Regions from separate parts of the Homo sapiens genome. Here region 2 is linked to region 1. The links come from fine-mapping of genetic effects on gene expression. A gene starts in region 1. The other region holds a variant in brackets. All regions are shown on one strand. Distances are between the middles of the regions. Region 1 holds the start of TMEM52B (transmembrane protein 52B). Region 2 overlaps LOC728715 (ovostatin homolog 2).

Evidence for each region.
Region 2: its variant is fine-mapped to the expression of TMEM52B in macrophages (Alasoo 2018, PIP 0.95).

What each region holds. Positions count from the first base shown.
Region 1 is chr12:10,175,934-10,181,304 of GRCh38, forward strand. TMEM52B (transmembrane protein 52B) reads left to right here and starts at 3,099. Exons shown (of 5, transcript NM_001384896.1): 1 at 3,099-3,695. The coding sequence starts at 3,642. It also overlaps a transcript of OLR1 not described here. RefSeq lists an enhancer at 3,457-4,656.
Region 2 is chr12:9,400,571-9,405,941 of GRCh38, forward strand. LOC728715 (ovostatin homolog 2) reads right to left here. Exons shown (of 9, transcript NR_144634.1): 3 at 1,857-1,983; 4 at 1,177-1,289. Among named protein-coding and RNA genes, the nearest start is that of LINC02367, 36 kb to the left of the region's middle. RefSeq lists an enhancer at 2,348-2,989. The variant T/G (reference allele first, on the strand shown) is at 2,617.

The DNA of each region.
Region 1 (5,371 bases):
CACTTGTTACACCAGTTGTATAACAATTCCCTGAAGCATAGGTGTAAAACTCTATGTACATGCACCCTCTACTGGTTCCACTCCAAGTCCTTAACTACCTGGACATAAGCTAATGATTCACAAGCTTAATGGAACTGCACAAGATTGTATAGGATTGTAATGAGACCATTTCCCTCTATCCCAGCTACCTGCCCTTCTGTACCTGTCCAAAGTGTACTTCGTTCAGTCTTCTTGTCTGAATTATCTTTCTTCTTTCATCATTCCCTATATGGAGGCTTGGTTAGGGACAGGATTCAGAGTTAAAGCTGCCCCAAGGCATAATCTCATTCATTAGGATAAAAACAAACTTTTATCTTTCCAGGGACTAATCTGGTGAGAAAAAAAAAAAGGGTAGTAATAATTCTAAGAAAGGAAAGTCACAAGGAGGTCATTAACAGAACCTATTTTGTTCAAACCTGTTTGGAAGCTGGAGGGCAAAAAGATGATGGCAATTACGTGTTAGAAAAGTGCAATGCGAGCGGGGAGTCATGTTAACCAGCAAACCTGTTTAGGCAGGTGAAGGCTGGCGTGGTTGGGAGAAAAGGTGGCCAGGCTAGCAAGGAAAAATATTCAAGAATTAGAATATCAGGAGACTAAAATGTGGTCTGGAGAGGGAATGGTATAAAAATATACAAGAGAAGCATAAAGGACAGTAATTATCCAGAATCTTGAAAGTAAAGGTCACTGGTAAACTTTAGTGAAAATCAAAATAATCTTAGCAAACACAAAAAATATCAGGACTGTTATATTCATTTTACACACATTAACTTATTTAATCTGTATAAGGCTATCAAGTAAATATTACTACTATTACCCCCATTTTATATAAAATGAAAATGAGCCAATAGAGGTCTAATAACCTGCTCCAAGATCACACAGCTCATAAGTGACAAAACCAAGTATTTAAACCCAGGTATCCTGGCTAGGCTTTAGGTCTTGGTGCTCTACTGTCTTTCTGTCAAGAAAAAGAGAAGGGAAAGTTTCATGATGGGTTCCCTACGTACAGGGCACTCATGATAGAAATATCCTATTCAAAATGCTTTCCTGTCTCTTATTTTATTTTCTCTAGGAAATAACATCTAAAGCAGGTCAAGTGGGTATTCTGCTCCTGTTGTATGAATGGGAACGTTAAGGACTGGAGGAATTACATAATAATTTAGTGGAAGGCCACCTAAAGCCCTGCTCTCCTTGTCCTATAAAATACCTTCCACCTTGCCAAGTCTTCTACTGAAATCTGGAAATCACCCTTCATCCTAACCCCAGTTGCCTAATTTAAAAAAATAAAAAATAAAAGACTGTCAGTGCTCATTTCGTCTTGAAACTGACAGATTTTAAATCACCAGTATGGTACCAGGCCATTTTCTCATTATTTGTTTTCCTTAGCTGAGAACAAAACCAGTTTATATCCTGCATTCTCATATCCCATCATCAAGCTATGTGTGAGGACCCTTAGAGTATGATCAGCTCACCCAAGAGTCTCCCTTCCACAATCACTCAGCATAATTAGATTTACTGAGCTAGAAAGGTCCTGAAAGGAGGTTTTATTCAATTCTTATGAGATAGATATATCACTGTAAACTAACTTCTACTTTTCTTATCCCAGCCTGGCCAATATGGTAAAACCTTGTCTCTACTGAAAATAGAAAAGTTAGCTGGGTGTCGTGGCAGGTGTCTATAATCCCAGCTACTCAGGAGGCTGAGGCAGGAGAATTGCTTGAACCCAGGAGGCAGAGGTTGCAGTGAGCCGAGATTGCACCACTGCCCTCCAGCCTGGTGACAGAGAGACTCTGTCTCAAATAATAATAATAATAATAATAATAATAATAATAATAATAATAATAATTTTTTTATTAAACATTTGGTATTAAGTAAAAGATCACCTACTTAAGTATAAATCATTCATACAGCATTCTTTTGTTTCTTTTAATATTTTGCTTTTTTGAGGCAGATTCTCGCTCTATCACCCAGGCTGGAGTGCAGTGGTGTGATCTCGGCTCACTGCAACTTCTGCCTTCCGGGTTCAAGTGGCCCTCCTGCTTCAGCCTCCCAAGTAGTTGGGATTACAGGTGCCTGCCATGACACACAGCTAATTTTTGTATGTTTCGTAGAGAAAGGGTTTCATCATGTTCTCCAGGCTGGTCTCAAACTCCTGGCCGAAGTTATCAGCCCGCCTTGGCCTCCCAAAGTGCTGGGATTACAGGCATGAGCCATGGCACCCGGCCACATTTGTGTCTATAGCTTTGTTTCATTGTAAGTATTCTAGGCCAGGCACGGTGGCTCACGCCTGTAATCCCAGCACTTTGGGAGGCCGAGTCGGGCGGATCATGAGGTCAGGAGATCGAGACCATTCTGGTTAACATGGTGAAACCCCGTCTCGTCTCTACTAAAAATACAAAAAAACTTAGCCGGGCGTGGTGGTGGGCGCCAGTATTCCCAGCTACTCGGGAGGCTGAGGCAGGAGAATGGCATGAACCCAGGAGGCAGAGTTTGCAGTGAGCCGAGATTGCGCCACTGCACTCCAGCCTGGGTGACAGAGCAAGACTCCGTCTCAAAAAAAAAAAAAAAAAAAGTATTCTATGCTTTTGCATGTGTGCTTGTTTTTACTCTAACCTTAGGTTTTATTTTCCTGAGTGACAAGACTTATTTCTCAATCACATCACTCCTTAACCAAAGAGAGAGAGAGAGAGAGAAAGAGAGAGAAAGAAGGAACAAAGAAAAGGCAAGAAAGAAAGAAACCTATACATTTGCTTTTTTAAAATTTGGTTTTAAAAAAATGTCTTTCTCAGTTATCTATTTCAATGGGAAGTGAAGTCAGGGAGGAGGAAGATGTCACTGATAACACCTGAAAATTCTAATCTTCCGACTTGATTTCTCATCTTCAAGTCTGTTTTCTCCAAAGATGAGATGGCTTTCCTGTTCACTTGGCAACCTCTCAGTCTTACCCCAATGCTTAGGGATATAAATGACCCAGAACCAGGAGAGTTGATTATCAACATAGTGAAGGGGAGGGTTTCAAAGAGCAAGAAGGGGTTGTTAGTCACACGGAGAGAGAAGAAAGGAGATTAGCAGGGTGACTTTCACCCTGCAACAGTCACGCTGGAGTACTCTGGTGAAGGATCAAGAATATTACCAGTTTTCTGATGAAGAAAGGAATATATTTGGTCACCAGCAATCTGCCTTTGACCATCCTCAAAGCCAAGTTTTTCATCGCTGTCTAGAAAAATACTTCATTCAGAGGACACATATGTCCTCTTTGAATGTCTCCTTTTTGGGAGCAGTAGGAGAAAGAAACTTCAAGATGTAGAAAGAATTAATAGTGTAACGGAAAGAAAGAAGGCAAAAGGAAGTAAATGTGGAGGCCATAGAAATAGTAATAAGAATAAAGAAGAAAAACAGGAAAGAAGAGGGAAAAGCCATAGAAAATAACAGCCAGAGCGAGTAGGAGGAGACAGAGAGAACGAGAGAGAGAAAAGCTGATAAATTCCTGAGAAAAGTTTCTCTTCTTAAGAATTCTAGGTCAAGAAGTAAAATATGGCACAGAGCATTGAAAGGAGGCAACGGATGCCCAGTGCAAGATTCTGAAGAAGCAGGAATTCAGCCCGATGGGAGTCCGAGTTCATGTCGTGGCGGCCTCAGCCCTGCTGTATTTCATCCTGGTGAGTTCAGTGGTGAAAAGGCAGAAAGAGTATTTTTCCCCAGATTAATCAACTCTCAGAAGAGTCTGAAAGGAAATGAACTGCGGGGTGGGGAGACATATACAGAACCCAGGGGGTCATAGGGAAATGAATAAACTACAAAGTTTCCTTAGTATTACGAGATTGCATAGATGCATGTGTGACTGATGGCAATGACAATGAAAAGGGGGACAGAAATTAGAGTGAGCATGGAAACGAGCAGGATTGCCGTGGCACTTTAGAAGTGCCGCTGAAGTATTTTATCTCTTTTAGCATCTTATCACCCATCCCTCAAAATTCCAAACAAATTATGAAAACTAGGTGTGTAATTCCCCTAAACGGAATTTCCCATCCAGGAATTTCTAATCCTGTTCTAGCAGTTTAGGTGCCTCTAGTCTAGAAATAAGAGAGGCAGGGCTCTTTTAAAATATTTTGGGCCCCACAATGAATCAGAAGTCTCTGAGTAATCCATTAGTGGAGAAAAGGGTCACTGGACTGAGGGATTCTAAACAATTGTCACAGGGAAGTTTATAGAGCTATGCCATCTAGCAAGAAGGAGAGCAAATGAAGAAAACTGGATAGTCTCAGATTCCCGTATGGCCCCCGTACAGAGTGGGCTGTATGGTTTGTTTTTTTTTTTTTTTTGCTAATAGAACAGTTAAAGTGGTATCTGAAAATCCATTTTTTCTTATATTTTCTTTTTGCTTCCTCTTCACTCCCTTTGCCTTGTCTTCCCTTCATTTTTCCTTTCTTTTCTCTTTGCAACAAGCCTGAAAAGTAGCATTTTCTCTGCTGAGCACTTTAGGCTTCTCTTACCTTTAGTGAAGAAAGTGAAAGAAAGTACCATGGTTGCGTAGAGGAAACACACGCTTTTTCATCGTTAGTGGCCATTTCTTTCCAATGAAAACACAAACACGGGTTTCTCAAATGTTACCTGCAAAGGCTGGCCATTAATCCTTTTACAGATCCTTTCCAACTGATAGGTCTTGAGAATGTGTGTCTCCTTACCCCTTCACTACCCGCCATAAACTCCCAATAGTTACAAATCTGTTTCTTTTCTAGGGCCTTTGTGGTTGCTTTCCTGAAATATCAGATCACTCAGGTTATTAGAAGACAGAAGCAACTTCTAGAATTGAGTTTACTTAAATGGTTTGTTGTTGTTGTTGTTGTTGTTTTTAAACGGAGTTTTGCCCTTGTTACCCAGGCTGGAGTGCAGTGGCACGATCTTGGCTGACTGCAACCTCCGCCTCCTGGGTTCAAGCGATTCTCTTGCCTCAGCCTCCCAAGTAGCAGGGATTGCAGGCATGCACCACCACGCCTGGCTAATTTTGTATTTTTTTAGTAGAGATGGGGTTTCACCATGTTGGTCAGGCTGATCTCGAACTCCTGACCTCAAGTGATCCACCCACCTCGGCCTCCCAAAGTGGTGGGATTGCAGGTGTGAGCCACTGCACCCAGCCTTGAATGGGTTTTTGAAAGAGGAAGTCAACTAAAAAATCAGGTAGAAGAAAGAGTGGACAGTTTTGTTTGTTTTTTTGTTTTCTGTAAAGGGAGTAGAAGGGACTTCATAGCAATGTCAAGGAATTGTTAGAGCAAACTTGTCCCCAGTGCTATTAATTCATCCAACACATATCTATGATAGAGTTTGATTTGAATTC
Region 2 (5,371 bases), 780 kb before region 1:
AATCTTCCCCAAACCCTGCTTTTAAGCTTACCTGCAGTCTCAAAGTTTGAACTGATAAACAGAGCTTCTAAATCTTTTACATATACTTAGGTTAGTGTTAGAGTTGCATAACACTTAGAGGACATCTTTGCTTAAAAGGTGGTATATGAGCATAATTAGAGAGTAGATGTGTCCCCAGGAGAACTTCTAGCTCAGTTTCCTGCTTCTGGATAAGACTATGGGGGTGTGAAGTTGAGAGTTCCATAGTTCATCAGGGCATGGTTGCTCACACCTGTAATCCCAGCACTTCTGGAGGCCAAGGTGGGTGGATCACTTGAGGGTCAGAGTTCAAGACCAGCCTGGCCAATATGGCAAAACTCTGACTCTACTAAAAATAGAAAAATTAGCCAGGTGTGGTGGTGCACGCCTCTAATCCCAGCTACTCAGGAGGCTGAGCCATAAGAATCCCTTGAACCCAGGAGGTGGAAGTTGCAGTGAGCTGAGATTGTGCCACTGTGCCACTGTACTGCAGCCTGGGTGACAAAGTAAGACTCTGTCTCAAAAACAAACCCAAAAAAGAAAAAGAGTTCCCCAATTCACTGAGTTCTTAGCCCTGGAGCTCAAGCGATTTTTATTTAGAAATTCTAAAAAATATCTCCCAAACTAATTTTACTCAATGTTTTCCACATATTAACTAAGGCTAAAAGCCTTTAGCATCTATAAATCATGCTTGAATTCAAGAGGATCATTTTGTTTTTCTATTCTGAAAAGTAAAAATCTAAAATGTTACTCTTTACAGTTACAAAAGAAACATTTGTGGGCTTGCTACTATATGACCATGCATGCTTGTCTTGAGAAAGAAATATAGAATCTCTGTTTTTCAAAACTAGGAGTACTTCCATACAACAGAATAAAAAGTATCATTGAAACATCAGTGCAGTGAAAGCTTTCAAATCCTGCTCACATAGACTGCATGTTTTCTTGCCTCATTTTAGCTCTGATTTAGCTGAAGATGTACTAAATTGTGGTGTCCGGACAGAGGGCTAAAAAGTGACTGTGCTGTAGAATTGTCACCACCAACATGAGAACTCATCATATTACCATGATTTATATTTTGTTATTTCACTACTGTTTGAACTTTTAAAATATTTTACCATCTTGTTCACATGGGAGTTACTGTCAAAATATGACACTTACTTGAGGGTCACTGTGAGGTCAAAAGCAGTCGAAGAGTAGTTCTTTACTATTTCCAAGGAAAGAGAAAATCCAGATGCCTTCTTAGGTAGGAGAACATTGTACTTAAGGGTGGCCTAGAAAGGATAGCAAATTATAAGAAAACCCATCCTGTATTAAGAATTATACAGTCTGACTAGAGTCAGTAGTAATGTGATTTTACATTTTAAAATAACCAAGAGTATACTTCGATCATTGGTAACACAATGGATAAATGCTTGAGGTGAGCATACCCCACTTGCCCTGATGTGATTCTTACACGTTGCATGCCTGTATCATGCACCCGGTAAATATTTACACCTACTATGTACCCACAAAAATTAAAACATTTTTAAAAAGAAAGAGCCTATTGTTTATTTCTATTACTAACGCAGTTTACATCTTTATCATCAGGGAATCAGGTTAAATTCTTTAGTTTTCAGAATAATGTAATTTAATGAAGATAGAATACTTTCTAATAGCAATATTCCTCAAGAAACTTCTCTTAGACAGCTGAGTAGCTTTTCAAAAAGTAACTTGCAATTTTGGCTATTGATTATGTAAATACACAAAACGGTCAAATAACACTTCACGTAGAACTGAACAGACAGTCTGACTCTTTTACTGGCAAACACTCATCACCCTCTTAGGCAGATTTCTGTTACCTGGATAAATGTACAACCGTGTCCTTCCACATCTACTGTGTATTGTCCAGGTGCCTGTGTTACTTCTGAACGTTGGACCAGTAGGCGATTATGACCGTTAACCTGGAAAATCTCACTGGATCCTTCACTGCTAAAGGTGACAGTGTTTTGATCCTTAGAGAAAAGCCCCTCTTCCCCCCCTGGCTCTTAGGATCCCCATCGCAGGGCGGGGAGGCACCCACCGCGAGGCGGAGACTGAGAGCCAGTCCCTCCCACCCCCGGCTCTTAGGACCCCCATAGCAGGGTGGGGAGGCACCTCCCGCGAGGCGGGGACTGAGAGCCAGCCCCTGTTGCCCCCCTGGCTCTTAGGACCCCCATCGCAAGGGAGGGAGGCACCCCAAGCGAGGCGGGGACTGAGAGTCTGTCCCTCTTTCCCCCGTGGCTCTTGGGACAACCATCGCAGGGGTGGGAGGCACGCCGCGGGAGACGGGGACTGACAGCCAGCCCCTCTTCCTCCCTGGTTCTTAGGACCCCCATCGCAGGGGCGGAGGCACCCGCAGCGAGGCGGGGACTGAGAGAGAGCTCCTCTTCCCCCTCAGGATGTTAGGACCCCCATCGCGGGGGGGGGAGGCACTCCCGCCAGGCGGGAACTGAGAGCCAGCCCCTCTTCACCCCCTGGCTCTTAGGACAGCCATCGCAGTGGGGGGAGGCACCCCCAGCGAGGCAGGGACTGACAGCCAGCAACTCTTCCGCCCCGGGCTCTTGGGACCCCCATCGCAGG[T/G]GGGGGAGGCACACCTCGCGAGGCGGGGACTGAGAGCCAGCCCCACTTCCACCCCTGGCTTTTAGGACCCCCGTCACAGGTGGGGGAGGCACCCCCAGCGAGGCGGGGACTGAGAGCCTGCCCCTCTTCCCCCCTCCAGGCTCTTCGGACCGCCGTCGCAGTGTGGGGAGGCACCCCCTGTGAGGCGGGGACTGAGAGCCAGCCGCTCTTTCCCCCTGGCTCTTAAGACCCCCATTGCAGGGGGGAACACACCCCCCGCGAGGCGGGGACTGAGAGCCAGCCCCTCTTGCCCCCCAGGCTCTTGGGACCCCCATCGCAGGGGGGAGGAGGCACCCCCCGCGAGGTGGGGACTGAGAGCCAGCCCCTCTCCCCCACGCGGCTCTTCGGACCCCCATCGCAAGGGGGGGAGGCATCGCAAGGGGGGGAGGCATCGCAAGGGGGGGAGGCATCGCAAGGGGGGGAGGCATCGCAAGGGGGGGAGGCATCGCAAGGGGGGGAGGCATCGCAAGGGGGGGAGGCATCGCAAGGGGGGGAGGCATCGCAAGGGGGGGAGGCATCGCAAGGGGGGGAGGCATCGCAAGGGGGGGAGGCATCGCAAGGGGGGGAGGCATCGCAAGGGGGGGAGGCATCGCAAGGGGGGGAGGCATCGCAAGGGGGGGAGGCATCGCAAGGGGGGGAGGCATCGCAAGGGGGGGAGGCATCGCAAGGGGGGGAGGCATCGCAAGGGGGGGAGGCATCGCAAGGGGGGGAGGCACCCCATGCGAGGCGGGGACTGAGAACCAGCCCCTCTACCCCCCGTGGCTCTTAGGAGCCCGATCGCGGGTGAGGGAAGCACCCCCCGCGAGGCGGGGACTGAGAGCAAGCCCCTTTTCCCCCCCTGGCTCTTAGAACAACCAACGCAGAGGGGGGAGGCACCCGCTGTGAGGCATGAACTGAGAGCCAGACCCACTTCCCCCCAGCTCTTGGGATCCCCATCACAGGGGGGAGGCACCCCACATGAGGCGGGGACTGAGAGACAGCCCCTCTGCCCCTCCTGGCTATTAGGACCCCCGTCGCACAGGGGGGAGGGACCCCCCATCGCACGGGGGAGAGGGACCCCCCGCGAGGCAGGGACGGAGAGCCTGCCGCTCTTCCCCCCGTGGCTCATAGGACCCCCATCGCAGGCGCTTGGCACCCCACGCGAGGCGGGTACTGAGAGCCAGCTCCTCTTCACCCCGGGTCTCTTAGGACTGCCATCGCAGGGGGGTAGAGGTACCCCATGCAAGGCGGGGACTGAGAGTCAGCCCCTCTTCACCTCTCGCTCTTAGGCCCCCATCGCGGGGGGGGAGGCACCCCATGCGAGGCGGGGATTGAGAGCCAGCCCCACTTCCCCCCTGACTCTTGGGACCACCATCGCAGTGGGGGCAGGTACACACCGCGAGGCGGGGGGGGGGGGCAGGTACACACCGCGAGGCGGGGACAGAGTGTCAGCCCCTCTTCCCCCACTGGCTTTTGGGACCCCCATCGCGATGGGGGGAGGCACCCCCAGCGAGGCGGGGACTGACAGCCAGCAACTCTTCTGCCCCGGGCTCTTGGGACCCCCATCGCAGGGGCGGGAGGCACCCCCCGCGAGCCAGGTTCTGAGAGCCAGCCCCTCTTCCCCTCTGGCTCTTAGAACCCCCATCGCAGTGGAGGGATGCACCCCCCGCGAGGCAGAGACTGAGAGAAAGCCCCTCTTTCCCCCTGGCTCTTGGGACCCCCATCGCAGGCGGGGGAGGCACCCCCCGCGAGGCGGGGACTGAGAGGCAGCCCCTCTTCCCCACCTGGCTCTTAGGTCCCCCATCGCGGGGGGGAAGCACCCCCCACGGGGCGGGGACTGAGAGCCAGCGCCTTTCCCCCCGGGGCTATTAGGACCCCCATCGCAGGAGGGTGAGACACACCCCAGGAGGCTGGGACTGAGAGCCAGCCCCTCTCCCCCCGCTGGCTATTAAGACACCCAACGCAGGGGGTGAGGCACCCCCTACAAGGCTGGGACTGAGAGCCAGCCCCTCTTTCAACCTGGCTCTTGGCAAGGCGGGGAGGCATCCCCCCATGGCAAGGCGGGGAGGCATCCCCCCATGGCAAGGCGGGGAGGCATCCCCCCATGGCAAGGCGGGGAGGCATCCCCCCATGGCAAGGCGGGGAGGCATCCCCCCATGGCAAGGCGGGGAGGCATCCCCCCATGGCAAGGCGGGGAGGCATCCCCCCATGGCAAGGCGGGGAGGCATCCCCCCATGGCAAGGCGGGGAGGCATCCCCCCATGGCAAGGCGGGGAGGCATCCCCCCATGGCAAGGCGGGGAGGCATCCCCCCATGGCAAGGCGGGGAGGCATCCCCCCATGGCAAGGCGGGGAGGCATCCCCCCATGGCAAGGCGGGGAGGCATCCCCCCATGGCAAGGCGGGGAGGCATCCCCCCATGGCAAGGCGGGGAGGCATCCCCCCATGGCAAGGCGGGGAGGCATCCCCCCATGGCAAGGCGGGGAGGCATCCCCCCATGGCAAGGCGGGGAGGCATCCCCCCATGGCAAGGCGGGGAGGCATCCCCCCATGGCAAGGCGGGGAGGCATCCCCCCATGGCAAGGCGGGGAGGCATCCCCCATGGCAAGGGGGGGAGGCATCCCCCACGAGTCGGGGACTGCGAGCCAGCCCCTCTTCCCCCCCAGGCTCTTGGGACCCCCATCGCAGGGGGGGAGGCACCCCCCGCGAGGCGGGGACTGAGAGACAGCCCCTCTTCCCCC